Homo sapiens: one gene and its partners. The protein of the gene in region 2 purifies or fractionates together with the protein of the main gene of each other region. This does not show direct contact. Each region holds a gene or a part of one and is shown on either strand. Other genes may lie near its edges.

The links.
Region 1: the proteins of GTF2E2 (region 2) and ACAA1 purify together in Homo sapiens (affinity purification with mass spectrometry; 2 studies listed by BioGRID and IntAct, with this or other methods). This does not show direct contact.
Region 3: the proteins of GTF2E2 (region 2) and TPP2 purify together in Homo sapiens (affinity purification with mass spectrometry; 2 studies listed by BioGRID and IntAct, with this or other methods). This does not show direct contact.
Region 4: the proteins of GTF2E2 (region 2) and RBM12 purify together in Homo sapiens (affinity purification with mass spectrometry; 2 studies listed by BioGRID and IntAct, with this or other methods). This does not show direct contact.

The regions. Positions count from the first base shown.
Region 1 is NC_000003.12:38,134,116-38,141,344, forward strand, and holds the start of ACAA1 (3-ketoacyl-CoA thiolase, peroxisomal), read right to left. Parts: upstream 3,013-7,229; 5' UTR 2,921-3,012; coding exon 2,750-2,920; intron 2,571-2,749; coding exon 2,477-2,570; intron 1-2,476. Other genes in the region: myeloid differentiation primary response protein MyD88, read left to right, coding at 4,586-4,913, 5,749-5,883, 6,273-6,477, 6,642-6,733, 7,017-7,171. UniProt on the Homo sapiens protein: Responsible for the thiolytic cleavage of straight chain 3-keto fatty acyl-CoAs (3-oxoacyl-CoAs). Plays an important role in fatty acid peroxisomal beta-oxidation. Catalyzes the cleavage of short, medium, long, and very long straight chain 3-oxoacyl-CoAs.
Region 2 is NC_000008.11:30,606,227-30,613,251, reverse strand, and holds part of GTF2E2 (transcription initiation factor IIE subunit beta), read left to right. Parts: intron 1-770; coding exon 771-953; intron 954-6,101; coding exon 6,102-6,195; intron 6,196-7,025. UniProt on the Homo sapiens protein: Recruits TFIIH to the initiation complex and stimulates the RNA polymerase II C-terminal domain kinase and DNA-dependent ATPase activities of TFIIH. Both TFIIH and TFIIE are required for promoter clearance by RNA polymerase.
Region 3 is NC_000013.11:102,599,965-102,606,989, forward strand, and holds part of TPP2 (tripeptidyl-peptidase 2), read left to right. Parts: intron 1-4,828; coding exon 4,829-4,957; intron 4,958-7,025. UniProt on the Homo sapiens protein: Cytosolic tripeptidyl-peptidase that releases N-terminal tripeptides from polypeptides and is a component of the proteolytic cascade acting downstream of the 26S proteasome in the ubiquitin-proteasome pathway.
Region 4 is NC_000020.11:35,654,877-35,661,901, reverse strand, and holds part of RBM12 (RNA-binding protein 12), read left to right. Parts: intron 1-2,887; 5' UTR 2,888-2,972; intron 2,973-6,557; 5' UTR 6,558-6,579; coding exon 6,580-7,025.

The DNA of each region.
Region 1 (7,229 bases), on a different chromosome or scaffold from region 2:
TAGCCCTTGGCAGGCTCACTTGCAACTCTGGAACATCAGGGTTTGGGGCAGGGAGAGCCAGCCATACAACAGCTTGTCCTGGTCATCCACCAGCTCCTGTCCCTGAGGGTCCCACGCTCACTTGCCCATGCACCCAGCTTTTCCAAATCAGCACAGATGGGCAGGTTGTCTGCCCTTAAAAGTGAAATGGGAGTTTCTGAAAATGCACATCTCCCCAGGTATCCTCCTGTGAGCCCTGCTGTCACCCCAGAGAGGTGGAACAGTGATTGCCGACCTAGGGGTGGCATCCGCTGGATAAGACTCTTGCCATATCATATTGCTGTATTTCAAGGTGAGGGGTGGAATAGAGGGCTGGACTGAAGATTGTGGGGAAAAGAAAGATCAGATTGTTACCGTGTGTATGTAGAAAAGGAAGACATAAGAAACTCCATGTTGATCTGTACAAAGAAAAATTGTTTCTGCTTTGAGATGCTGTTAATCTGTAACTTTAGCCCCAACTCTGTGCTCACAAAAACATGTGCTATATTGAATCAAGGTTTAAGGGATTTAGGGCTGTGCAGGATGTGCCTTGTCAACATATGTTTGCAGACAGTATGCTTGGTAAAAGTCATCGTCATTCTCCATTCTCTATTAACCAGGGACATGATGCACTGTGGAAAGCCGCAGGGACCTCTGCCCAAGAAAGCCTGGGTATTTGTCCAAGGTTTCCCCCCACTGAGACAGCCTGAGATATGGCCTCGTGGGAAGGGAAAGACCTTACTGTCCCCCAGCCCGACACCTGTAAAGGGTCTGTGCTGAGGAGGATTAGTAAAAGAGGAAGGCCTCTATTTCCCGCACATCCCTGGGAACGGAATGTCTCGGTGTAAAGCCGACTATTGGTTCTATTTACTGAGATAGGAGAAAACCGCCCTGTGGCTGGAAGCGAAATATGCTGGCAGCAATACTGCTCTGTTACTCTTTGCTACACTGAGATGTCTGGGTAAAGAGAAACAAAAATCTAGCCTACATGCACATCTCAGCACAGTACCTTCCCTTGAACTTATTTATGATGCAGATTCCTTTACTCACATGTTTTCCTGCTGACCTTCTCCCCACCATCACCCTGTTCACCCCGTTTTGCCTGAAGAGGGCCTGCCCCTCCACACCTGTGGGTATTTCTCGCAAGGTGGAGACGAGAAACTGAGAAAAGAAATGACACAGAGACAAAGTATAGAGGAAGAAAAGTGGGCCCAGGGGACTGGTGCTCAGCAATTGAGGACCTACACCAGCACTGGTCTCTGAGTTCCCTCAGTATTTATTGATCACTATCTCTACTATCTTGGCAAGAGGGATGTGGCATTATATACCATTACTATAAGGTAATGGTGGGGAGGGGGTCAACAGGAAAAAATGTGAGCAAAGGACTCAGTGTCATAAGTAAGTTTAAGGAAAGGTGCTGTGCCTGGATGTGCACATAGGCCAGATTTATGTTTGACTTTACACAAACATCTCAGTGCAGTAAAGAGCAGTATTGCCGCCAGCATGTCTCACCTGCAGCCATAAGGCGGTTTTCTCCTATCTCAGTAAATAGAATGTATGGTTGGGTTTTACACCCAAGACATTCCATTCCCAGGGACAAGCAGGAGACAGATGCTTTCCTCTTATCTCAACTGCAAAGAGGCCTTCCTCTTTTACTAATACTCCTCAGCACCGACCCTTTACGGGTGTCTGCAAAGAGGCCTTCCTCTTTTACTAATACTCCTCAGCACAGACCCTTTACGGGTGTCGGGCTGGGGGACTGTAAGGTCTTTCCCTTCCCACTAGGCCATATCTCAGACAATCTCAGTGGGGGGAAACCTGGACAATACCCAGGCTTTCTTGGGCAGAGGTCCCTGCGGCCTTTCGCAGTGCACTGTGTACCTGGTTAATCGAGAATGGAGAATGGCGATGACTTTTACCAAGCATACTGCCTGCAAACAAATGGTTAACAAGCCACATCCTGCACAGCCCTAAATCCCTCAAACCTTGATTCAATACAGCACATGTTTCTGTGAGCACAGGGTTGGGGCTAAGGCTACAGATTAACAGCATCTCAAGGCAGAAAAATTTTTCTTAGTACAGATCAAAATGGAGTTTCTTCTGTCTTCCTTTTCTACACAGACACAGTAACAGTCTGATCTCTCTTCCTTTCCCCCACACTGCCGCACTCCCCTTGCCGAGATAGTGAAAATAGTAATCAATAAATACTGAGGGAACTCGGAGACCGATGCCGGTCACCTGGGCCCACTCTACACTTTGTCTCTGCGTCTTATTTCTTTTCTCAGTCTCTCCTCCCATCTGACGAGAAATACCCACAGGTGTGAAGGGGCAGGACCCCTTCAAAGGTCAAGGCCATGGAGGTTCCCCCAGTGAAAATTCGGGGCGGGGAGGTGAGGAGAGCTCTGGACGAACGGAAGAACGGGGAAGGCCCAGCGCAGGGCCTGAGTGGTTCGCTCACCGACACAGATGTCCCCCAGCTGTTCCGGCCTCAGATTCACGTCCTTGAGAACCGCGGTCATGACTGCCGAGAGAAGCTCGTCGGGGGTGGTGTCCTGCAGCAGAAAGAGCAGCCGCAGTGACCCCCACTCCCCCATGCCCACCCCAGGGAGACAAAGCGACCACAGCTGGGTGCGGAGCTGCCTCCGGCGTCCAGGATAACCAAACATACGAACCGGACCCCAGCCCGCGCCGGCGTCTTCCCACACTCGGCGCCCAGACCCTCGGGCCTCACCTTGAAGCCGCCGCGGCCCGCCCGGCAGATGGCCGTGCGCCGCCCGTGCACCACCACCACGTCCGCGGCCGAGGCCTGCGGGGCACCGCTCAGGCAAGGCGCGGCCTGCGGCATCCAGCCGGAATCGGCCGGACCCCTCAGGTGGCCCAGCACTACCTGCAGCCTCTGCATTGCGCAGGTCAACCCTGCAGACCAGCCACCAGTCCGGGAACTGACCGCGGAGTTAACAGACAGCCGTCCGCACACGCGCAGAACCACATCTCAGCCTCCAAGGCCTCAACTCCGCCCACAGCTCTGCGAACAGACGCGAGCGACCCTCCAAAAGTCCCGTCCACCTCCAGCCTCAGCCAACCACAAGGAGAGTCGGCCTGGGAACCCGCCCCTCCCCGCCACCGCCTACCAAGCCCTCTATAGGAGGGCCCACAGGCACCGCCCAGCCGAGCTTTCCACTCAATGCCCCGCCTACCTTGGCCTACCGCAGCCAACCAGAAGGTGTATCTTTACGAATCCCCGCCCAGAAATGCAGACCGGAAGTCTTTCCACCTTTTGTAGCCAAACCCGAGACCTGACCCCCAAATCCCTGTCTCCTGCCCGCAGCCAAACGGAAGGCTGGGCAGCCAGGACCGCTTACTGCTTGGGGGCTGGAGATGGAAGCCGAGGCTCTAATTCCTCTACCCACTTCCTAGGAGGCTCTGCTATCCCTCCGGTCCCAGTACCCGAGCTGGGGGACCTAAATACTTCCGAGACGCCCGAGTCCTGCTCCGACGTGGTTGGGCTTTCCCATTCTTTCGAGAAGACAGGGAATTTGGGCTTCCGGGCTGGCCGGGAGAACAGATTTTACAGACATGCGGGGTGTGACAAGCTCTCTAACTGGAGAATGAACATTTCACACTTTTACCAGTTTTACACCCAATTGGAATGATTTTATTAGTGCCCATTTCCCGTGCTAGGCTGGGGTCTCCACCAAGGCAGAGAGGTACCATGTATCCGGGGAGCCTGCGACACCCTTGACACTTAGTAGATGATCAATAAGTACTTGTCGAATGAGTAAATGAATGAACCAGGGCTCCCCAGGTCAGGACTGTGTCCCTAAACCTAAAGGGCAAGGCCACGTGCCCCCTTGACTCCCAATAGCAGGGCCATGTCTTCACCTGAGACCCTGGAGAGTAGTGCTGGGCTTTCCACAGACACCAAAGGACAGGGTGCCTTGTGCTCCCCAACCTAGTGTCATGACGTCCCCAACCATTTCGAGGGCAGGGCCACGGCATGCCTCAGGCTCCAGAAGGCAGCTGTCCGTTTCCCACTCCCACCTCGGGGAGCACAGCAGGGGTCTTCCCATACCCCTACTGGCAGGATTGCGTGTTCCCCAGAGACAGTGGAGGGCAGAGCTGGTGCCTTCCCACTTGTCCCCTCCTCGCCATCCTCGAGGGCAGGACCGTATGAACCCCTCAGATTCCTCCGTGGAAGAACTGTGGCTCCACCAGATCCCAAAAAGCAAGGCCCGTTTCCTACAACCCCCGAAGGAGGGTCGTCCTCACTCCGCCGCCAACCTACTAGCACCATCACCAGACCCTCGAGGGCGGTGCCGTGGACCTCTCCAGATCTCAAAAGGCAGATTCCTACTTCTTACGCCCCCCACATCACCCGCCTCGAGACCTCAAGGGTAGAGGTGGGCACCCCCGCCTCCGCACTTTTGCTCGGGGCTCCAGATTGTAGGGCAGGGCGGCGCTTCTCGGAAAGCGAAAGCCGGCGGGGCGGGGCGGGTGCCGCAGGAGAAAGAGGAAGCGCTGGCAGACAATGCGACCCGACCGCGCTGAGGCTCCAGGACCGCCCGCCATGGCTGCAGGAGGTCCCGGCGCGGGGTCTGCGGCCCCGGTCTCCTCCACATCCTCCCTTCCCCTGGCTGCTCTCAACATGCGAGTGCGGCGCCGCCTGTCTCTGTTCTTGAACGTGCGGACACAGGTGGCGGCCGACTGGACCGCGCTGGCGGAGGAGATGGACTTTGAGTACTTGGAGATCCGGCAACTGGAGACACAAGCGGACCCCACTGGCAGGCTGCTGGACGCCTGGCAGGGACGCCCTGGCGCCTCTGTAGGCCGACTGCTCGAGCTGCTTACCAAGCTGGGCCGCGACGACGTGCTGCTGGAGCTGGGACCCAGCATTGGTGAGGACGTCCCCTTCCTGGCCTCGTACCTGGGGGGTGAGGAGGCTGACTTTCCGCGGCCTCAGCATCCTGTCTCCCATGGAGAGACCCCATTTCCTGCCTCGGGGGCCCGAAGAAGCCTGCAGAGGGAGAACCATGCGGGTCCCGTTCCTTCTTAATAACCGGTCGCGGTTATTAAGAAGGACTGGAGAAAGGTCCGGATAGGCGGAGATGGGAAGGAAGCAGCTTAGGCAGAGGCTTTCAGGTAGGGCCAGGAGTCAGAATCAGGCTTCTGTGGGGGCATCTGGGCTGTTTCAAGTAGAGCAACAGGACAGGTGGGGCGATTGACAGTGGACTGTCTTAGAAACCTCAAGTCCTGGGGAAATGCAGCCCTTCTTTCTACTCACTGGCACTTACATAATATACATGCATAGGCGTTGGATACAGCCGCCCACAGACAGGCACACCTTGCTGAGTTGGAATCACTGCACCATAACCAGTGGGTCTCCTGAGCCTTTCTGGCATGCCCAGCCCCTTGCTCACATCTGCCCTGGATCCCAGAAGAAGCAGACCTACCTTGGTACCATTCTTAGGATCCCTAGGAAGGGACAGAGATACAAACCTGACTTTGATGGCCTTCCAGAAAGCCAGAACACCACTGACATCCCTTTGGGTCAGTTAGAGCCAGTGGGAGCTCAACTTCTCAGAGCCGTTGAGCTTCGCGTGGCACCAGTGAACTGGGGAAGCCCTCTAGAACAACCCAGCCAGAGGAGGTGGGACAGCGGCTGGATCCTGACTGTGGGTAAAGAGGTAGGCACTCCCAGGGAGGCTGCTTTACTCTGTCTCTTCCCCACAGAGGAGGATTGCCAAAAGTATATCTTGAAGCAGCAGCAGGAGGAGGCTGAGAAGCCTTTACAGGTGGCCGCTGTAGACAGCAGTGTCCCACGGACAGCAGAGCTGGCGGGCATCACCACACTTGATGACCCCCTGGGTAAGGGTCCAATACTGTTCCCATGGGACAGGTGGAATAGGACATTGTGGTGTTAAGAGCATGGGTGTTTGAAGCAGATGGGCTGTGAGACCTTGGGCAAGTCACTTAATCTTTCTGAGCCTCAGTTTCCTCACCTAAGAAATGGAGATAATAGTCCTACCTCTGGATTGCTGTGAGATGCTCATGAAATAATGTCTGTCTCGTGGTTAATCCAGAGCTTAGCCCCTGAGGTACTCATCTTTCCTCTCCTGGAAAGGGCACTTTCTCTGAGGAGTATCATCTTGGGAAGGGTGCAGGGCCCAGGGTTGCCTAGGCAGGGGACTCTTGGCTGGATCCCTCCCAAGCCTTCCCATGGAGCTCTGACCACCACCCTTGTGCTCTGCACCCAGGGCATATGCCTGAGCGTTTCGATGCCTTCATCTGCTATTGCCCCAGCGACATCCAGTTTGTGCAGGAGATGATCCGGCAACTGGAACAGACAAACTATCGACTGAAGTTGTGTGTGTCTGACCGCGATGTCCTGCCTGGCACCTGTGTCTGGTCTATTGCTAGTGAGCTCATCGAAAAGAGGTTGGCTAGAAGGCCACGGGGTGGGTGCGTGGATGCATGAAGCCCTGCCCTGGGGTCCAGATACTGGGCATCTCCTCCTAGCTGTGCACTGTCCAGCCTGGGCACAGTGGGCCCTTCCTGAAGCTATTCCCAGGGGATATGCTGAACTAAGTTGCCACAGGACCTGCAGCCTGCCCACTCTCCCCTAGGTGCCGCCGGATGGTGGTGGTTGTCTCTGATGATTACCTGCAGAGCAAGGAATGTGACTTCCAGACCAAATTTGCACTCAGCCTCTCTCCAGGTAAGCTCAACCCTGCTCTGGCAAGAGAATGAGGGAATGTGTAGGTGGGGCCTCTGGATTGTCAGCCTTCCCTCCCCAAGGACTGTGGATGCAGTACCAAAGAACTGCTGAAGATCTCTGCACACCTGAGCATGTGTGCATGTGTGTGCCTTTTTGTGTGAGTGAATGTGTGCCAGGGGTACTTAGATGGGGGATGGCTGTTGTTAACCCTGGGGTTGAAGACTGGGCTTGTCCCACCATGGGGCAAGGGCCTGATGCCAGCATGGCACCCCTTGGCTTGCAGGTGCCCATCAGAAGCGACTGATCCCCATCAAGTACAAGGCAATGAAGAAAGAGTTCCCCAGCATCCTGAGGTTCATCACTGTCTGCGACTACACCAACCCCTGCACCAAATCTTGGTTCTGGACTCGCCTTGCCAAGGCCTTGTCCCTGCCCTGAAGACTGTTCTGAGGCCCTGGGTGTGTGTGTATCTGTCTGCCTGTCCATGTACTTCTGC
Region 2 (7,025 bases):
GGGGAAGACCATTGACTAGTAAGGGTTATGTTCCTTACTTTATAATGCCAGTATGTGATAAGCTGTACTTTGCAGATGGAGTGGGCACTACTCAGTTCACTTTGTCTATTAATATTTGTAGGTGTTTTATTGATTCCTACACATTTTGACTACTAGAAGAATATGGGTTCAGCTTTTTTCAAAGTAGTTGTGATAAAATGGTTTATTTCTCTTCAAAGAATTTATGTAAATAAAACACAGTTTCTTTTATAAAAAGTGAGCACCGTGCTGATCTACTGTTCTGGAATTCTGGATGTCCAGGATTTTAGGCCTGCCAGTTTGTATTCATAAGGTACTTTTAATTTGCCACTGTATTGGCTAGTGTTGTATTTTAAAATAATTAGTAGAATTAAGAATGTGTATATGGGCTGGGCACAGTGGCTCACGCCTATAATCCCAGTACTTTGGGAGGCTGAGGTGGGTGGATCACCTGAGGTCAGAAGTTCAAGACCAGCCTGGCCAATGTGGTGAAACCCCGTCTCTACTAAAAATACAAAAATTCGCTGGGTGTGGTGGTGCGCACCTGCAGTCCCAGGTGCTGAGAGGGAGGGAGGCAGGAGAGGGAGGCTGAGGCAGGAGAATCGCTTGAACCCAGGAGGCGGAGGTTGCAGTGAGCTGAGATCACGCCACTGCACTCCAGCCTGGGCGACAGAGCAAGATTACGTTTCAAAAATATATATATATATTTATGTTCCATTTGTTAATATATTCCAATTGTATCACTGTTACAGGCTTTAGTCAACAATCCCAAAATTGAAGTAATAGATGGGAAGTATGCTTTCAAGCCCAAGTACAACGTGAGAGATAAGAAGGCCCTACTTAGGCTCTTAGATCAGCATGACCAGCGAGGATTAGGAGGAATTCTTTTAGAAGACATAGAAGAAGCACTGCCCAATTCCCAGAAAGCTGTCAAGGTAATCTCTCTTTTCTTTCTATGTCTTAATATAATTTGAATGAATAATGACTTCTTGGTTTTAAAAATATCAAACATTTTACAATTGTTTTTAAAGCTTCTATTATATACACATGGGTTACAGTGAGCCACTTGAAGGTTTGAAATTTGTCTTGTGCCACCTAGCAGGAAAGGGAGCAGCCATCTCTGTGTAACTTTGACGGGTTCTTGTTGCTGTTACTATATGATTGTTTGATTGTTCAGGCTATTTCTGGAAAATTTTCCTCAAAGGCAATAGAGTTTCTCTTGTAAGCTCTGTTTGTAAATAAGAGTGTCTTCTATAATACTAGTAGATGTTCCTTACCTGAGGAACTAGAGGCATTAAAACATGAAAGCATTGGTTAATAACCTGGCTGTTTTGAAGTCCTAAAGGGGCTATCTATGAAAGTCCTACTGATACAGATGACATTTCCAGTTTAAATTTGAAACTCACTGGGGAAAGCTGCTTGTTTCCATTTGTCACAGTTGCTCATTATTAATGTTAACTTGTTAAGCAGGTTCATTCATTTTGCTGCCTGTAGAAGAAAACTTGCCCCTTTGTCTCTTCTTCTTGGTAATGGAATTATACATGTCAGATCTTCTGGTATTGTACTACAAGTCCCTGAGGCTCTGTTTATTTATTTCAATTTTTTTTCTGTTCTATTAATCCATTGTCAAGTTCACTCACTTTTCTTCTTCACTTCCAACTTGTTAAGCCCAGTTGGTGAATTTTTTAATTGTATTTTTCAGTTCTAGTCTTTCTTTGTAAATTTTTCTTCTGGTTTCTGTTTCTTTGCTGAATTTTGTTTTCTTTTTTTTCCATTCGTGACAAGTATCTTTTGTTACACCCTTAAGTATGATTTCTTATAGCTGCTTTAAAATTCTTCTTATTCTAACAGCCGAGTCATCTCAGAGCTGGTCTGCATTGACTGTCTCTTTTATGGGTCATATTTTCCTGTTTCTTCATATATCTAATACATTTCTGTTGGGTCTTAGACCTTGTGGATTATATTAATATGTGTAAAGACTCAGGATTCTGTTACATTCCTCCCAAGAGTGTTTCTATTTGTTTTGTTTTGTGGTTAAGTGGGCAGTTACTCCAAACCTTGTCTGCCCTACAGCAGGTAGCATATGATATGTCTCTTCTGTTCTTCTAGCCTTAGCCCGTTTGCTTGGAATCTTGGAATCTTTTTCCAAGACTGGCTTATTTCACTTAGCATAATATTCTCAAGGTTCATCCATGTTGTACTTGCAACAGGATTTTCTTCCTTTTTAAAGCTGAATAATATTCCATTGTGTTTTTGTTGTTGAATTGTGGGAGTTTTAAAAAATATATTCTGGATATTAATTCCTTAACAGATACATGATTTGCAAATATTTTCTCCCATTCTGTAGGTTGCCATTTTACTCTGTTGATTGTGCTCTTTAATTTGCCAGTTTCTGAGTTTGCTGCACTCTTGTCTATTTTTGATTTTGTTGCCTGTGCCTTTAGTATCATGTTTAAATCACTGCCAAATCTAATGTCATGAAGCTTTTGTCCTATGTTTTCTTCTAGGAGTTTTATAGTTTTGGGTCTTAGGTATTTAGAGTTAATTTTTGTATATGGTGTAAGAGTCCAACTTTATTCCTTTTCATGTGGATATCCAGTTTTCTCAGTGTCTTGATGAAGAGACCGTCCTTTGCCCATTGAATAGTCTTAGTCTTGGTACTCATGTGGAAGATCATTTGACCATATATGTGAAGGTTTATTTCTGGGCCCTCTATTCTGCCTGTATGTCTTTCTTCATGCCAGCACTACAATGTTTTGATTAATGTAGCCTTTTTTTTTTTTTTTTTTTGAGACAGAGTCACACTGTCACCCATGCTGGAGTGCAGTGATGCAATCTTGGGTCACTGCAACCTCTGCCTCCCAGGTTCAAGCAGTAGTCCTGCCTCAGCCTCCTGATTAGCTGGGATTATAGGCACACACCACCACACCCAACTAATTTTTTTATTTTTGGTAGAGATGTGGTTTTACCATGTTGGCCAGTCTGGTCTCGAACTCCTGACCTCAAGTGATCTGCCCACCCTCGGCTTCCCAAAGTGGTGGCATTCCAGGTGTGAGCCACTGCACCTGGCCTGATTAATGTAGCTCTGTAATATATTTTGAAATCAGTAAGAGTGAGATCACCAATTTTGTTCTTTTTCAAGATTGTTTTGGCTATGTATTAGTCTATTCTTGCAATGCTATAAAGGAATGCTTGAGACTGGATAATTTATAAAGAAAAGAGATTGATTTGGCTCACAGTTCTGCAGGCTCTCCAGGAAGCATGATGCTGGTGTCTACTCAGCTTATGGGGAGGTCTCAGGAAACTTATAATCATGGCAGAAGGTGAAGGGGAAACAGGCTCATCTTACATGGCCGGAGCAGGAGCAAGAGAGAGTGGGGAAGGTGCCACACACTTTTAAATGACCAGATCTCATGAGAACTCATTATCAGGAGAACAGCACCAAGAGGGAAATCCACCTTCATACCAGTCACCGCCCACCAGGCCCCACCTCCAACATTGGGGATTACAGTTTGACATGAGATTTGATGGGGACACAGATCTAAACCATTTCAGGCTTTTTGAGGTCCCTTGAGATTTGATATAAATTTTTGGATGGATTTTTCCATTTCTGCAAAAAATGCCATTGGGATTTTGATAGGGATTACCTTGAATAGGTAACTTTGGGTAGTATTGCCATCGTAACTGTATTAAGTTTTTTAATACATGAGCACAGAATTCATTTATTCATGTCTTTAATTTTTTTTAGCAATGCCTTCAGGTTCTTTCATTTATTTTATGTATGTACAATTTGACTGTCCCTTATCTGTAATGCTTGGGACCAGAACTGTTTCAGATTTTGGGATTTTTTTCAAATTTTGGGATATTTTCATTATACCAGTTTAAACATTCCAGAGTTGAAAATCTGAAATCCAAAATGCTCCAGTGAGTATTTCTTTCTTTCTTTCTTTCTCTTTTTTTTTTTTTTTGAGGCGGAGTCTCTTTCTGTTGCCCTGGCTGGTGTGCAGTGGGGTGATCTCAGCTCACTGCAACCTCTGTCTCCTTGGTTTAAGAGATTCTCCTGTCTCAGCCTCCCAAGTAGCTGGGATTACAGACACCTGCCACCGTGTTCAGCTAATTTTTCTATTTTTAGTAGAGATGGGGTTTCACCATGTTGACCAGGCTGGTCTCAAAACTCCTGACCTCGGCCGAGTGCAGTGGCTCACGCCTGTAATCCCAGCACTTTGGGAGGCCGAGGCGGGTGGATCACGAGGTCAGGAGATTGAGACCGTCCTGGCTAACATGGTGAAACGCTGTCTCTACTAAAAAGTACAAAAAATTAGCCGGGCGTGGTGGCGGGCACCTGTAGTCCCAGCTACTCGGGAGGCTGAGGCAGGAGAATGGCGTGAGCCACCGTGCGGAGCTTGCAGTGAGCCAAGATCGCGTCACTGCACTCCAGCCTGGTTGACAGAGTGAGACTCCGTCTCAAAACAAACAAACTCCTGACCCCAAATGATCCTCCTGCCTCCCAAAGTGCTGGGATTATAGGTGTGAGCCATCACACCTGGCCCCCAGTAAGTATTTCTTTGGCATGTCATGTCAGCACTTAAAAAGTTTTGGATTTTGGATTCGAGATTTTGGGATTTGGGTTGCTCATCCTGTAGTTATCACCTTTTACCACCTTGATCTAGTGGACTATTATTTTTAAGCTACTTTAAGTCATTTTATGAATAATTTACATAAGTAAGAATAATGGGATGATGAAAACAGCTTTATTAGAGATTTTAGTAAGAATTTAACACAGCAAACTTCTGTATCAAGTAATTTTTGGAAAACACATCAAAAAGAAGAATACTGTCATATATCCTTTTAGCAAAGTGAGATGATAAAGATTCTTTTCACAAAATACTGTGTGATAATCTTCTGGTGAATAACGGGATGAGAATATTGTTTCCATTTTGTATTGAGAAGCATTTTGTTCGCTTGTTGATTCTTAAGCTTGAGAATCTTCACTTGAGTTATTGTCATCTAAAGACTCCATAGCTTGAGACTTTATTCCTATGATGAATTTTTGCCAGATAGTCTAGAGTGCTGCTATTTGGCTTTTTGCATTCATATTTTGATTCATCTAATAATTGTGAAATGTCTTTGGTCAGTTTTCTTGTCTTTGCTCTCAAGGGTAGAAAATACAAAATTTTTTTTGTCAGGTGTACTCAATGAAAGTTAAAAGACAACAAGAAGACTCTTCCAATCTTTTATATCTCTTGAAAAGGAGTAATGTAATCCTTTGGGCAATGCAGTAAGAAAACTGAAGGATGCCCATGTATTTCACTATTGCATCACATTTCTAGGTGATTTAATCATTCTTCTATTTTCTTATTATTTTAGCGTTTTAAAAGCACAATTGGAAATAATTGATGGGTAATGATGAGTAAGGAGCGAAATATCTCAAGGTAGAGGAAAAGTAAGAACACCAAGATTCTATTATGTGTCTTAGATTAGTGAAAGAGCCCCATGGACCCAAATAGTAATTGCAGCAAAGATTGAATTTTCCGTTTTAAGTGAAACACGTTTTATTTTTGTTCTTTGGAAGACCTCTAAGAATACAAGTCTGGAAATATCAATTTTTAAAAAATTGAACTACTCAAGAAAGAAACTCAAAAACTAAAATTGGGGCTGAGTGCAGTGGCTCACACCTATAGTCCCTGTACTTTCTGATGCTGAGGTGGGAAGATCGCTTGAGCCCAGGAGTTCAAGACCAGCCCTGGCAACATAGTGAGACCCTTTGTCTACAAAAAATTGAAAACATTAGCTAGACGTGGTGGCAATGCACCAGTGGTCCCAGTTACTCCAGAGGCTGAGGTGGGAGGATTGCTTGAGCCTGGGAGGTTGAGGCTGCAGTGAGCTGCACTCCAGTCTGGGTGGAGTCTCTTAAAAACAAAACTAAAACTAAAATTGGGTCCAGTGGACCTATGGTGGAGGACCCTATGGTGGTATACTGAGTGTGTTAAGGAAATGAAACTCCTTTATTGTTTAAATTTTTTTTTTTTTTGGTGAGGTAATTTGGAGTTAACTGAAAAATCTTTATTTTATCTATCTTTAAGGCTTTGGGGGACCAGATACTATTTGTAAATCGTCCCGATAAGAAGAAAATACTTTTCTTCAATGATAAGAGCTGTCAGTTTTCTGTGGATGAAGGTGAGCTTTTCTGTATTATACTTTAGTTTGCAAGTATATTACAATTTTAGGGTGGTAAAATTAATATTTATAATACAATTATAATTTAAATCTTATATTGCTTTTTTAGCATTATCATTTCTTAGAACACAGCCAGTGGCCCCTGTGTCTAACATATTGTTGCTTAGAATGCAATTTGAAATATGTGATTTGAAAGATTTTAGGTTAATTATACTTACAATCGCAGTTCAGGATTTCTTAATGTTTATAGCTCAACTGAACCAAACGGGTTTATTTCTTTATCTTTAGACTTTTACAAATGTAAGTTCATATCCTGATACAAAAGCTTGATACAGGATGGGAAAAAGAATAAACTTTTATTGGTGAATAGTGTTCTCTTATCTTATGAATCTTTCAGTTATCAAATTGAATAAGGAAGGAGATGATGTTTTTCTTTCTGGAAATTGTGGAGTTGGATGCTAAGCTGTATATTGAATCTCTTACTAAGTATATGATACGTATGTTTGGACTTTAGTTTTAAATTTTTGTCAATAATTTGTCATTAAACAAGGGTTTAGTGATGAAAAATGTATTATTCAAGTTTACCAATTGCCATTTTAGCAAGTGTTGGTGGTATTTTACTGTAAATTTGTATTACTTTTGAAGTTTTATAAAATGGCAGGAAAATAATTGGACATCAATTTAATTGATTTTGTGATTTGTGCAGTAACCTTAAGTTTTCCTTTTGTTATCTGTCTATAGATATCCAGGCTTGTGGTTCTGGTAGATAGGGCTTTAGTTTCCCTGAACTTGTTTTAGGAAATTGTATTTTTGTGAAAATCCCAATTGAG
Region 3 (7,025 bases), on a different chromosome or scaffold from region 2:
CATTTCTAGAGTTAGATTCCTTAAAAAAAAAAAAAAACCTTGTATTATACCCTCATTTAAAACAAAGCCATTTTGGAATCTCAACTGCTTTTGTGTAAAAATTAAAAAAAAAAATTGAATGGTATATATGAGGCCATTTGCCATCCAACTCTGGCCTCCTTATGTAGCCTCAGTTCTCATCATTTCTTATGTCCATAGCCCCTTCATCCCCACCTTTCATCCTTTGCCTCCCCTTGAACATTTCATTCTTACACTCACCTAGATGTTTCAGGTCTTTTTGCCAATACATGCCTTTACATGTGGCGTTTCATCTTCCGTCAGGCTTCTACCATCCGTCATCTGTAAACTCCTGCTTCATCCTTTAAGATCCAGTCGGGTCTTGACACCATTATGTTTTGGAAAATCAACTGATTTAATTCTGCGCGCCCCCTCCCCCCACCACCTCGTATTTATGTGTGTTTGCCATTGTGTTAGGGCCTGCAGCTTCAGAGGTGAGTAAGGCCCAATCCCTCCTAAGAGTTATTTAGGCTTTTTGTCTCTTTGCTGTTATAGCAATTTGCTTAGATCCCCTTAATAGCACCTGAAATATGTATTTTAGTGTTTCTGTTTAGATAACTTTTTCCTGGTTAACTTAAAAATCTTTGAAAGCATGTATCAAAATTGTATGACATGTGCTTGTAATGTTAAATGTTTTTGTTGAATGGAAAAAATATATATGGGCATAATGAAGGAATATAATTTCCTCATAGAGGGAAAAAAAAGGTTTGAGGAGGTTACGAGTAGTTTCATAAAACTCTATTTTTACATTCACTAAAATTTTATTACCTCTCTTTCAGTTAGCTTTCCCTCATTCCCCCCAAGTTGGGTTTTGTGTTTTTACATGTTTTTGTATGCTTTCATAGATAGTGTCCTAACCTCTTTTTTTTTTTTCCCTCAAAGACAGGGTCTCACTCTGTCACCCAGGCTGGAGTACAGTGGCACAGTGGCAGGATCACCACTCATTTCAGCCTCAAACTCCTGGGTTTAAGCAAGCCTCCTGCCTCAGCCACTGCAGTAGCTGGGACCATAAGCATGTGCCACCATACCCAGCTAATTTTTTAATTTTTTTGTAGAGACAGGGTCTCACTGTGTTACCCAGACTGGCCTGACCTCTATTATTTGTTGTCCTGTTTTGTCATCATCTCTCTACTTACTTTTTCTTTCCAACCAATAGTAACCTTTACAAAAGCAAAGATTGTCTTATTTATATTAATCATTATATTCTTAGAATAAAAGTCACTGGTTAATATTTATTAAATCTTTATTTGCTTAAAAGAATATTTTCAGTACCTTTCCTGAAATTTTAAGTCAACTCATTAACTTTGTGTTGTTTATGATAGATTGCAAACTTCCCGCCATTTGTTCTGGTCCTCTCTGCAAATGTCCTACCTTTTGTTCTGGTCCTCTCTGCAAATGTTTGGCAAATCTTCCAACCTTCACTAACTCCTCTACCTTACTGGTTACATTGAAGACATACACTAACTTAGATTCTTGACATTTTGGGAAAAGCTTTGGGCAATTTCTGTTTCATCCAGCCAACATAGCCCAGTAAGCATTTCCCAGTCTCCCACCCCAGGACCCAGGATTTAATACCGAAGCTCTTACCGATACTAACTGCCCATGCTTTCAGTCCCTCTTTCCCATGTGAAGCCTCCCCCTTCTCAGAGATGAGTGATATAGTTCCATTGTTAGCAGTTCAGCTTCCTCCTTTCCTTTACTTCTCCCAAAACACCATGGCAAATCCTCAGGGGGTTTGCCTTTTTAAAACCCTCCTCTGACCCTACATTTCTGTTTTTGTCTTTTTATGTCTAGTGAAGTGGTTTTCTTTATCTAATATTAAAGTAAGAAATTCATGGATAGGATAATTGCATGTATAATAATTTGTAATGAAAATTTGTGTGTGTAGGAGAGAGATCCTTGTAAGTAAAGCATGTGGAAATAGGTGACAAATAAGCCATTAAATCCCATTAGGCTTTTTTCCTTTGCTAATATATTGATAATGAGGTTTCTAATGAGAGATCTATCTGACTTGTTAGTGCTCTCTTGTTATTCTTGATCTCAAGTCACTCAGGTTTGCTTATTGAGGTGAAGATAGGTGATTTGGGTTCTTAGTGCTACTGTATATCTTTCAAATTTCATATTGGAATACATTTTAAAATAGGTGATTTTCTTATATGATTAGTACATGACCTAGCTAGTTTTAATTTTATAAAGTAGTATCAACTTAATTTTGTTTCCATTTTTATTTTGGTAGATTTTCTTACATTTTTCTCTTTTTTAATTATATTTTTGAGACATATAGCCTATCTCTTCAGAATCAGTATCTGATTTAAGTTTTATAGTTGTATCAGGGTTTGGTATGATTCCCACAGTGATTTTTTTTAATTATGACTTTGAGTTTTCTGAGTATTAGAATTCTTATTTGTTACTATTATAGGACAGTTCCCAAGAAGTAAACATCCAACTTGAGAATTACCATACATGAAAATAACAGCTGTGCCTGGGAGGCCTTTATGACCCCTTCAGCTATCAGGCCCTCAGTTGTTCCATGGCAACAAGATTGAAATGAGATTTGGGGTCCACCAACCACCCATTTGCTTTGTCCGGTAAAGGAAAAAAAAATGTGTGCTTTTGTTTTCTCCACATCGAGAATTTCCCTCTCCTTCTTCAGGGTATACCTTAATTACAGAGCTTGGAGGTTATTGCAGAGGAAATACTTGTGTTGGGGTGAGGGGCATGTTGGTCAGAAAGACCCAGAGCAGTGGACATTAAGCTTTGTCGTAAAGAGTGTGAATTCTCCAGGTGGAATTGGAGTCTGAAGACTGTGCTCTTCCACTTTACTGACAGTTTCTACGGTTTTTATGTTTCTGTTTCTTTCTTGAGGATGGAGTTTTTTTGTTTTTTTGTTTTTTTGTTTTTCGTTTTTTGTTTTTTTTTCAGTCGTTGTGTCTCTGTTTTCTGGCTGATTCCTGCTGGTAACTCAGTACATATTCCTGAATGCAACAAATTCCCTTTGGAAAGCCAGCCAAGAAAGAGCCCAGAAATTATTTTCCCACAAAAATGTGTAAAAATATATATTGTTACTTGTAGCAATCATGTTATGGCTCAAATGAAAATTTGTGGACTGGCAAGAAATCAAACCTTTGAAAATCAGTCTTAGTGCTAAGTAACTTGTGTCTTGTAATTCAGTAATGAAGTATTCATTGAATGCCTGACAGGCACTGCTAGGTAGTGGGTATATGTATGTTCGTGAATAAAGTAGACATGGCTCTTGCCTTCATGGAGCTTTCTATTCTAATAGGGGGAACAGATGAAGATCACCTACTTGTATCATTAGAAATAGAATTATGTTCTGTGAAGGAAATGAGGTACAGTGAGAAAAAATAATCCAGTTTAGGATGGCAGCTACCTAAAGGAGGTCATCGAGGAGGCCTTTCTGCAGGAGGGACTTTAATAGAAAACTGAGAGAAGATAGAATCCTGTGGAACAACTGAAGAGATAAAGAATTCTAGGCAGAAGGAACCTGTTTAAAAAGTCATGAGGCAGGAAAAAGTTTGGCATGTTTCAGGAATTGAAAGGAGGTTGGCGTGGTTAGACTCCTGAGTAACGGGGTGGCAGGGGTCAGATGGTGCGAGGCTTTTTATGCGAGTATTCTGAGTGCTCCATGAATACATTGATGGGCTTAAAGGAGAGGACTGATAAAATACAGCTTGTTTTAATACAGGTTGAGTATCGCAAATTCGAAAGTCTCCAATGAACATGTCCTTTGAACTTCATGTCCATGATTTTGGAGCATTTGGAATTTTCAGGTTAGGGTCACTCAGCCTGTATTACTTTTGATGGGGCCAAGAGTGGAAACTGAGGGACCACTTAGGTAATTCACCTCATGGAGGCAAGAGATGGTGGTGGTTTGGAAAGTTAGGATAGTGGTAGTGAAAATGCAATGGATTTGAGCTCTCTTCTAGACAAAGAATTAACAGGATTTCCTGTTAGCTTCGCTGTGAGGAGTCAACTGAAGTAAAGAATCAGAGGAGGATTGTTAAGTTTCCAGTGTGAACAGCTGGGCGTGGGGATTCCTGGGATGGCAAAGCCTGGAGAAAATCAGGTGGTGGGGGGCATGTTAAGCTTGAACTTTGTTGCGTTTGAGGTGCTAGTGTGGCATCCAATAATGGTGCCATTAAATGGTACCATTACTACTAAACATTTTTTCCCCCTAAAGCTCTAAACTTGTCCAGCCCACAGCTCACCATCTTTAGATCTTTTCTCAAATGTTACCATCTCAGCAAGGCCTTCCTTGACCAGCCAAACTTATGTTGAAAACCCCACACTGACCATCTCCCTTCCCTGCTTAATTTTTCTCCATAGTTAATTTTCACCATCTGACATGTTCTTTTTTTTCCCTAATACCCAGTGTGATAGCACATCTGACATGTTCTTTATTTTACTTTGTTATTAACTGAACTGCTTTCTCGCTATAAGATCGTCAGGGATTTTTGCGTATGGATCACTGCCATATCCCCAGCACCTAAAATAGGGTGTGGTCTATAGTAAATGCTCAGTAAATATTTGTTTATTGAATATATGAAACGACTTGAAGGATTCTGTAGTGTTTCCACGATTAAATTTTCTTACTAGTATTTGTTCAGGCTTTTGGCTTAAAACAGTTCAGTTCTCTTTTTTAAGTGAATGTAGATTTTGTATATACACACACATATATATGTGGATTTGCATTGTTTAGGAATAAAAACCTAAAATCTACCATTCATATTTTAATTTTCTTAATTTTCAGGTTACAACTGATGGAAAACCAAAAATCGTTGATATCATTGATACAACAGGAAGTGGCGATGTGAATACTGCTACAGAAGTAGAGCCAAAGGATGGTGAGATTGTTGGCCTTTCAGGAAGAGTGCTTAAGGTGAGACCTTTTGTCTTCTTTTTGAATTTTTTTTTTTTTACTCTTGCCTCAAAGCATCTAATGTTTTTACCTTACATTTGGTGGTGGTATTAGTTATCCATTGCCACATATCAGATTACCTCAGAACATCCTGGTTTAAAATGACAAATATTTATTACCTCGGAGTTTCTGTGAGTCAGGAATCTGGGTGTGGCTTAACGGGGTTCCAGTCGCCCTGGAGGTTGCAAATGGTTAGCCATGGCTGTGACTTCAGCTGAAGGCTCAGCTTGGGAGAAGAAGGGGAAGTTTGTTTCCAAGCCTACTGGTGGGTCACTGGCAGGCCTTGGCTCCTTGCCATTGGGCCTCTCCGCAGTGCTGCAGTACCTGGCAGCACCTTCCCTGGGGGAGTGAGCCGAGAGAGTCCCCACGATGAAAGCCACAGGCTTTTTATAAAAGTGACCTTCTAAGGGACCACCTATCACTTGACTATATTGAGCTCATTGGAAGTGAGTTAATAAATCTAGCACACACTTAAGGGGAAGGGATTTCACAAGAAATGAATCATTGGAGCTGTCTTAGAAGAAGCCATTATTTTGTTGTTTGATGAGGTAATTAGAATTGGGCGGTATTTTTCAGTGAGCTTGCCAAATTTTATGTTTTGAATACAAAGATAGAGAAAGTAACCACATCATAGCTTTGCCTTCATGTTTTACTGTCCCTTCATAGTATTCCCAGTTAACTTGACCATGAAGAAATACTTAGGCTATAGTAGCTGTTAACTTAAATGGCCAGCTTTGTCTTTTTTTTTTTTTTAAACTTCTTTTTTTCTTTTTTTTTTCGAGACATAGAGTCTTGCTCCGTTGCTCAGGCTAGAGTGCAGTGGTGCAATCTTGGCTCACTGCAACCTCCGCCTCCCGGGTTCTAGCAATTCTCCTGCCTCAGCCTCCCAATTAGCTGGGATTACAGGTGCCCGCCACCACGTCCAGCTAATTTTTGTATGATTAGTAGAGACAGGGTTTCACCATTTTGGCTAGGCTGGTCTCGAACTCTTGACCTTGTGATCCGCCTGTCTCAGCCTCCCAAAGTGCTGGGATTATAGGCGTGAGCCAGGGCACTCGGCCTACCAGCTTTGTCTTATTCTATGTCCTTGGTAGAAAGGCCTGGGTAAGCTAAACGTAAAAAATAATTATAAAGCAAGCACAGAGGAGCTCATGAGCTAAGGAGCATGAAGGATGGATGGCAAGAATTTGTGATCCTGTACTCTTAAGCAGCATTAGTTTGGAACATAAAATTATGGTTATTTAGTTAGCTTTTCCCACCTTTTGCCATCTATCTGAATTGTTCTTAGGTCTTGTCTTTTAAGTAAGCTTGTTGTGGCAGCATATTGGCTTTCTGTGCCGTGTAATAAAGCACCACAGACTTAGCCGCCTAAAACCTTGTGTATTCCTGTATTTATTATATCACTGATTCCATGGGGTAGGAGTCCAGGCATGGCTTTTTGTGGGTCTCTGCTCAGGGTCTCACAAGACTGCAGTCAAGATTAAAGGCTCAGCTGAGGCTCAGGCTTCTTTTCCAAGTTTACATGATTGTTGGAAAAATTCATTTCATTGCAGCTGTAAAACTCATGATAGCTTGCTTCTTCAAGGCCAGTAAGAGAATCTCTGACCTTGGTGATGACCCCAGTCTTTCTTTTAAAGAACTCACCTGATTAGTTCAGGCCCGCTGAGAATCATGTCACTTTTGATTTGCTCAGAGTCCTTAATTGCGTCTGCAAAATCCCTACACCTTCTTTACGTACCATAACGCAATCATGGGAGTGACATCTCATTATATTCACGGGTCCTGCCTTCACTTAGGGGAGGGACGTGGGTCTTCTTAGAAATCTGCCTGTCATGGGCAGATAGCAGCCATTAATAATCCAGGTTCTACTTCCTTTTCTGTGTGTTAGGAACTGATTATCTGTGTCCCCACCCCCTGCCAAAATTCATACATTGAAGCCCTATCCCTCTTTGTGTTGGTATTTGAAAGTTGGGCCTTTGGGAGGTATTTAGGGTTAGATGAGGTTATGAGTATGTGTCCCCTCAGGATA
Region 4 (7,025 bases), on a different chromosome or scaffold from region 2:
TCTTTTGGATCTGAAGAACCTAGCTCTGCTGTACCCTGGTTCTTGTTGATTAAAGAGTGATAACTGAACAAAGTTAAAGTTCACTTTTGGATGTTTACTACCAGATGAAGAGTGAAAATAGTCGTTTTAGTTTGTGCCTTGACTTCTTGATGAAGAGATTTGTTGTCAGACATTTTTTTCTGAAATTCCAAGTGATTAGAATGGCTAGTAAATACGAAAGTCTGTCTTGCCATAATATGTTAAATTTTTGTAGCAGATACTTGTGATTTGTGCATGCATCCGGTATTTTGTCAAGTTGAAGCAAGCCTTTATGTTAGGACTAATTCCTGATAATATGAATGGAAAACATACTAAAGCCAGCTTCTTGTTTTAGATCTTCTGAAGTATATCAGTGGCTTTAATGACAAATCAGGCCCATTTTCTCCTTTCCTATCATTATGCTGTATGTATAGATAGAATATGTATTTTAGATGTTTTATTGTTTAGTTATTATTTTAGTCTTATCCTTCTAAAGTTCAGCAAAGCTTTAGGTAAATGGCGTGGATTTTTGAAATCCTGCATTCAGTCGCTAGCTGACATTTAGAATACAGGAATAGTAGTTTCCTGGAAAACAGTGACACTTATGTTAAATTCTTGTGGTTTTTACAAAGTGAGGTGTCAACACAGAAGTATTTCAGTTCTATTTCCATTTACCTTTCCCTTTTGAAGAGGTATAATACCAAGGGTTGTGAAGTTCTGACTTGTAGCATCAACTTTCTGCATGGTTTTCCTTGGTATGGGGTGGGGTGGGTATTCCTCTTTGCTGAAATAGAAGAGAATCATAAATTTCTATCTGGATTGATTTTGTGCTTTAAGTTGTACACATAAAACTTGAACTAGGCATTTGTCAAATTCAGCTGGGCCTTTCAGCCTTGCCTTGTGGAATGAGAAATATCTTCCTTTTAAAGGTAATTTCTGGTAACCTTTTAGAAATTTTTGAGAGTAGACCTGGTGAGTTCCCTTTGAGCTTAACTGGCTGACCCCAGATATGTCCTTCTCAAGATAGACATACGGTATCTTTTGAGTTTGCAAGGGAAGAGGCTGAGAGGAACCTTCTTACCTTATATTCAGGCATATGCCCTGGCCCCATACCTGACCTTTTGAATTGGAATCTCCAGTAGGGATCAGATGTTTATTACAAGTTCTAGAAACTAGAAAGTTACCCTGTTATGTGGCTGCTGGAGTCAAACCTGTACATAAATATTACAGTACTTCATGCTCTTGCTCATTGCTTTACTTGAAGCAGGTTTTTTTCTGTTTCACATTTTCCTTTGTGACCTGTTAAACTACTAGATATGGCTTTCAAATGAAGAATTTTTAAACTCCTTAGACTTAGTTAGGCTAGGCCAGGCGTGGTGGCTCACACCTGTAATCTCAGCACTTTGGGAGGCTGAGGCGGGTGGATCACTTGAGGTGAGGAGTTAAGAGACCAGCCTGGGTAACATAATGAAACCCCTGTCTCTACTAAAAATACAAAAATAAGCTGCGGGTGGTGGCGCAAGCCTGTAGTCAGTCCCAGCTACTCCAGAGGCTGAGGCATGAGAATAGCTTGAACCCAGGGAGGCGGAGGTTGCAATGAGCCTAATGAGCCTAGATCGCGCCACTGCACTCTAGCCTGGGCGACAGAGCGATACCCTGTCTCAAAAAAAGAAAAAAAAAAGAGGCTAGATTTCTACAACATGTAAAAGATTAATACAATGCTCTAGACTTTTGATTGTGTTGATTACATATTTGCATAGCTTTTTGTGGTAAAACCATCTCACTATTCTTTAGCAACTTGAGTAGTTGACTAGACGATGAATAGTTTGTCCTTTAGAAAATCACACAGATTTTTGAAATATGTTTTACTTTTTGGCGATGAATATTAAGGTCATTAGTTGTATTTTGGTCTTGGAAGATACTAATTTAAGATGAGCATCATTTGGAAAAGTAGTCGTAGGTAATCTTAATACTGAACAGTGGCAAATTTCTTCTCTCTCCGAATTAAAACATGACCTTTGAAAAAAAATAAAAAGCAAAAAATGACCTTTGAATATAGTTGTCTAGACATTTGGTCATATATGCTTGTGACTTGTTAATAACCTCACCAGTTTGGAAGAAATGACAGTGAAAGATGAGTGACCTGTTTTTATTTTGGGATATACTCTTAATATGTCAGGCATTTTTAGGGTGTTTTTAAATTTTATTTTATTTTATTTATTTAAATTTTACAAGTTTTTGAGAACTGTTGTGATGTCAGAGGAAAAAACACTTTCCCTTAATATTTTGTTAATATTTTGAGCTCCAGTGGAATTAGTCCTTATAGCAAGAACTCATACTTCATTTGTTTTGTGATGTTGGATGCTATTTTGTGCAAAATAAAATATATTGAAAGAATAATTGCAGTAATTTCCATGAGTACCCTTGAATTGCTATCTTAAGTTGTCCAAGAATTGTTATTGTGCGAACTTGTGCCTTTTCATCACAAATTTGGTGAGAACCTGGGGAAATAGACTTGTGTTACGGAGTTTTCTGGACTGGTTTAATTATAAAGTGATCAAAGCAATTAGCTGTGAAGCTGAGCTTTATGACTGTTTTAATTTTCAGTGGATTCGTTATTGGGCTAAGTTAATGACACTCTTGTAAATATATAATTATTTTGAGATACTCAAATTTGAAAGCAATACCAACTAAAAAGCATGTGTGGGATTTTGTTACGGTGTCTTTCTTTTTTTTTTTTTTTTTGATATGCATTCTAATGAAGTACTCTGGTGGTTTCAGACTCGCCTTCGTAATGTACAGTGTGGCCTGTGCGTGTTGTTTTGTGTTTCCTGCATTGATTTTTGCCTCCGTTTATTCTCTATTGCAGTCTAAAAGTTGGTTTTAATTGGTTGCCCACAGGATTGACTTGGCCTCTACTTCTTGTTAAGGAAATTCATCTCTTGTTTTATCAGGTAAGAGATTTTGAATAGAGAGTTCGTTTTTATACAAAATAAAATGAGATAGCTTATTAAGAAATATGAAAATATATGTAGCAACTATATTGTGTGTGTGTGTGTGTGTGTGTGTGTGTGTGTGTGTTTTTGTTTGCTTGTTTTTTGTTTTGAGACGGAGTCTTGCTCAGTTGCCCAGGCTAGACTCTGTTGCCCAGGCTGGAGTGCAGTGGTGCCATCTCGGCTCACTGCAACCTCCGCCTCCCGGGTTCAAGCACTTCTCTGCCTCAGCCTCCCGAATAGCTGGGATTACAGGCGCCTGCCACCATACCCGGCTAATTTTTTTGTATTTTTAGTAGAGATGGGGTTTTATCCTCTTGGCCAGGCTGGTCTTGAACTCCTGACCTTGTGATCCACCTGCCTTAGCCTCCCAAAGTGCTGGGATTACAGGCATGAGCCGCCACCCAGGCCGGTGTGGTTTTTTACAAGTTTATCTGAGGGATAGGGGTGGGGTAGATGGGTGCTTTGAACAGTTGTTCCTTTGGGGGTCAATTTCATTTATATGGATCTATTTATCTTGTGATTTTCCTGATAGGCAGTAAGTTTTATTCCTTAGTAGCATTTTAGACTAATTACAAATACAGATGCTTGTTATTGATATGTTTATTTATATTTCCTAAGAGTTTAAGTATAGATAATGGGTCACATGTTTTAGAGTACAAATTTTAGACTTTAAATGGAACCTTAGCAAGTGGAATCTAACCCTCTTGTTTAAGTAACTAAGATAGGCCCAAGTTAGGTTGAAATGACTTAGCTGTCAAACAGTTACTTAGTAACAGAAAAGCAGATACTTTTTTAAATTTTTTTTTAAATTTTTATTTGTTTTATTTATTTATTTCTTTTTGAGACAGAGTTTCGCTCTTGTTGCCCAGGCTGGAGTGCAGTGGCGTGATCTCTGCCTCCCGGGTTCAAGTGATTCTTCTGCCTCAGCCTCCCTAGTAGCTGGGATTACAGGCACCTGCCACCATGCCCAGCTAATTTTTTGTGTTTTTAGTAGAGACGGGGTTTCACCTTGTTGGCCAGGCTGGTCTTGAACTCCTGACCTCGGGTGATCCACCCACCTCATCCTCCCAAAGTGCTGGGGTTACAGGTGTGAGCCACCGCACCTGGCTGCGGATATTATTTCATATTTTTTGGAAGCTAGAAACAATTTTTCTCATCAGATGGCTTTATGAATAAATCTTGTATTCCACTTTGGTTTAATATTCAGCCCTTTCCAGCTGGTAATCTGAGGCAGATTTTCAATAGCATATTCTCATGTGTACCTTGTACAAACTTTCAGTAAATCCCTGCTCTTAACAGAAAATGGCTTGAAGACTTAACTGTGTATGTCACTTTAGCCCTGTGTTTAATTTTTGTGTTCTTGGGACTATATCAAGTTTCTGTTTGATTGTCCCAGTGCAAACTAGTCTCTCTCTCTCTCTCAAGTTGTTTTGAGTACCTGGATTGCCCATGATGTTTCCCCTATACAAAGTGATTAACCGTTTTTTGAAGTTGAACAGGAAATGCTATCACATTTTGCATACAGCCACATATTCTAGATTGAGCAAGGAATGTGAATTTGATTTAATGACTTGGAAACTGCTTGATGAACCTCCTTATAGGCTGCTAAATAGTAAATGAGAAAAGAGACTGTTGGTGTGATGTTTTTTAGCGTTAATTTTTCTTGTTGACTCTTGAAGTTTGTAAATGAAAAGCTTCCCCACACTTCCCAAATTTCTAGTGCTTTATAATGGCCTCACAAAAAGCATTTTCTGTTTGCTAGTCCATTTTTCTGGATTAAATTTGAAGGTGGCTTTTTATTTTTGTGTATGTGTCTGTGAGAAAACTGTCAAAGCCAAGCAGTTTGTTTCTTGTTTGTATACGGCAGTTGTAATATTGAGATATAATTACAGATTTTGTTGCATTAGTATTTATATAATATTTGACAATGAAGTTACAGAATTCTTAGAGCTTATAGTAGAAAATCTTGCCCCTTCTAATATTCTTGAGAAGTGATAAAACCAAATCTCTTCATTAATTTATAACCTTTCTGAGGGTCATGAGCTGATTTTATGGGCTTATATTTAAAAGTTGACTTTTCAGGTGGGGCGCAGTGGCTCACGCCTGTAATCCCAGCACTTTGGAAGACTGAGGAGGGTGGATCACCTGAGGTCAGGTGAAATCCCATCTCTCCTAAATACAAACACTTAGCCAGGCATGGTGGCGCATGCCTGTAATCCCAGCTACTTGGGAGGCTGAGGCAGGAGAATTACTTGAACCTGGGAGGTGGAGGTTGCCGTGAACCGAGATCGTGCCGTTGCACTGCAGCCTGGGCTACAAGAGTGAAACTCTGTCTCAAAATAAATAAATAAATAAAAGTTGACTTTTCAGATGGGTTGGAAAACACCCTATGTTATTGACCACCTTAATTTCAAAGTAGTATGTTTCCCAGGCCCAATAATTCGGTTTGTGTCACTTTCCAAAGGGCTGCCCTTGAATTTGCTCTTAGAAGCCTTTGGAACTGAAATACTGAAATTTGAGGGGAACATTTCTTTTTTGATTATGTCAAAACAGGCATGATCTAAGGAGATCACAGAGATCCTGTAGGAGTTGTGTAGGTCCAAGACTGTAACAACCACTGAGTAATTCACACTCTGGTTCTAAAACAAAAACAAAAAATATTTTTATTGTCAGCCCTCTCCTAGGGGAAAATAATACTTTAAAAAATTTTATTAAATAGAGGATTTGGTTATGAGTCATTGGACCTGAGTTTTAATTAAAATAGTCACAGTGAATGGGACTATAACCAGGTTCTACTTTTGGGGGTAATGAATCAAGGTAACTCAGATTTTAGCTGTCCTATTCAGTAGTTCTTTTGGCTTCTTAGTATGTCTTAACCTTGTTTATAATAAATAATTCCATATGTAGTTTTTTGTAATGTACAAGGCAGATTGAAAAGTTTTAGGATGAATAAAATAATGGAACCAGTTCTCATTTAAGACTTGAATCTACTTTTAGTCTTAAGTATTATTTACAATTCATTAGTATTCTAGTTTTTTGCTTCTGTTGGATGGATTTTGAGACTGAGCTCTATAAAATCACACTCTTGATAATTCTATGAAATTATCAAGTATATAGGGAAGATGCTAAGCCAGTTTTAAATACTAACTTCTATATATTCTTTGCATGTTTTTTCCCTATAGATTGTTAAACTTTGTTTCCTGATTTGACTTAGACATTTCTTTTAAATCTTACTGAATGATTAGTGGTCTGAATGATGTATATGTATTTTACTGTCCTACAGTTGTTTTTTCTTGAACTTTTTGAGTCTTGGGACTGAACTGTTTCCAAAATTAATGCCTTCTGGAAGTTGAAATTGTCTACGTTTTACATTGTAAATGGCACGTAATGTTCAGTTTTTAGAATATCTAAATTAAAGACATTGCCTGTGATAGCTTGAGGGAATATTTGAGGGCCTAATATGGTAGCTGGTCATTCTTGTAGCTAAAAACTTGGTGTGATAAACAGGAGTCTGACCTGGCCGTTGCCTTTTCTCATCTGCAGGTGTGTGTGGTTTCAGCGCAGCATGGCTGTGGTCATCCGTTTGCAAGGTCTCCCAATTGTGGCGGGGACCATGGACATTCGCCACTTCTTCTCTGGATTGACCATTCCTGATGGGGGCGTGCATATTGTAGGGGGTGAACTGGGTGAGGCTTTCATCGTTTTTGCCACTGATGAAGATGCAAGGCTTGGTATGATGCGCACAGGTGGTACAATTAAAGGGTCAAAAGTAACACTATTGTTGAGTAGTAAGACGGAAATGCAGAATATGATTGAACTGAGTCGTAGGCGTTTTGAAACTGCCAACTTAGATATACCACCAGCAAATGCCAGTAGATCAGGACCACCACCTAGCTCAGGAATGAGTAGCAGGGTAAACTTGCCCACAACAGTATCCAACTTTAATAATCCATCACCCAGTGTAGTTACTGCCACCACTTCTGTTCATGAAAGCAACAAAAACATACAGAC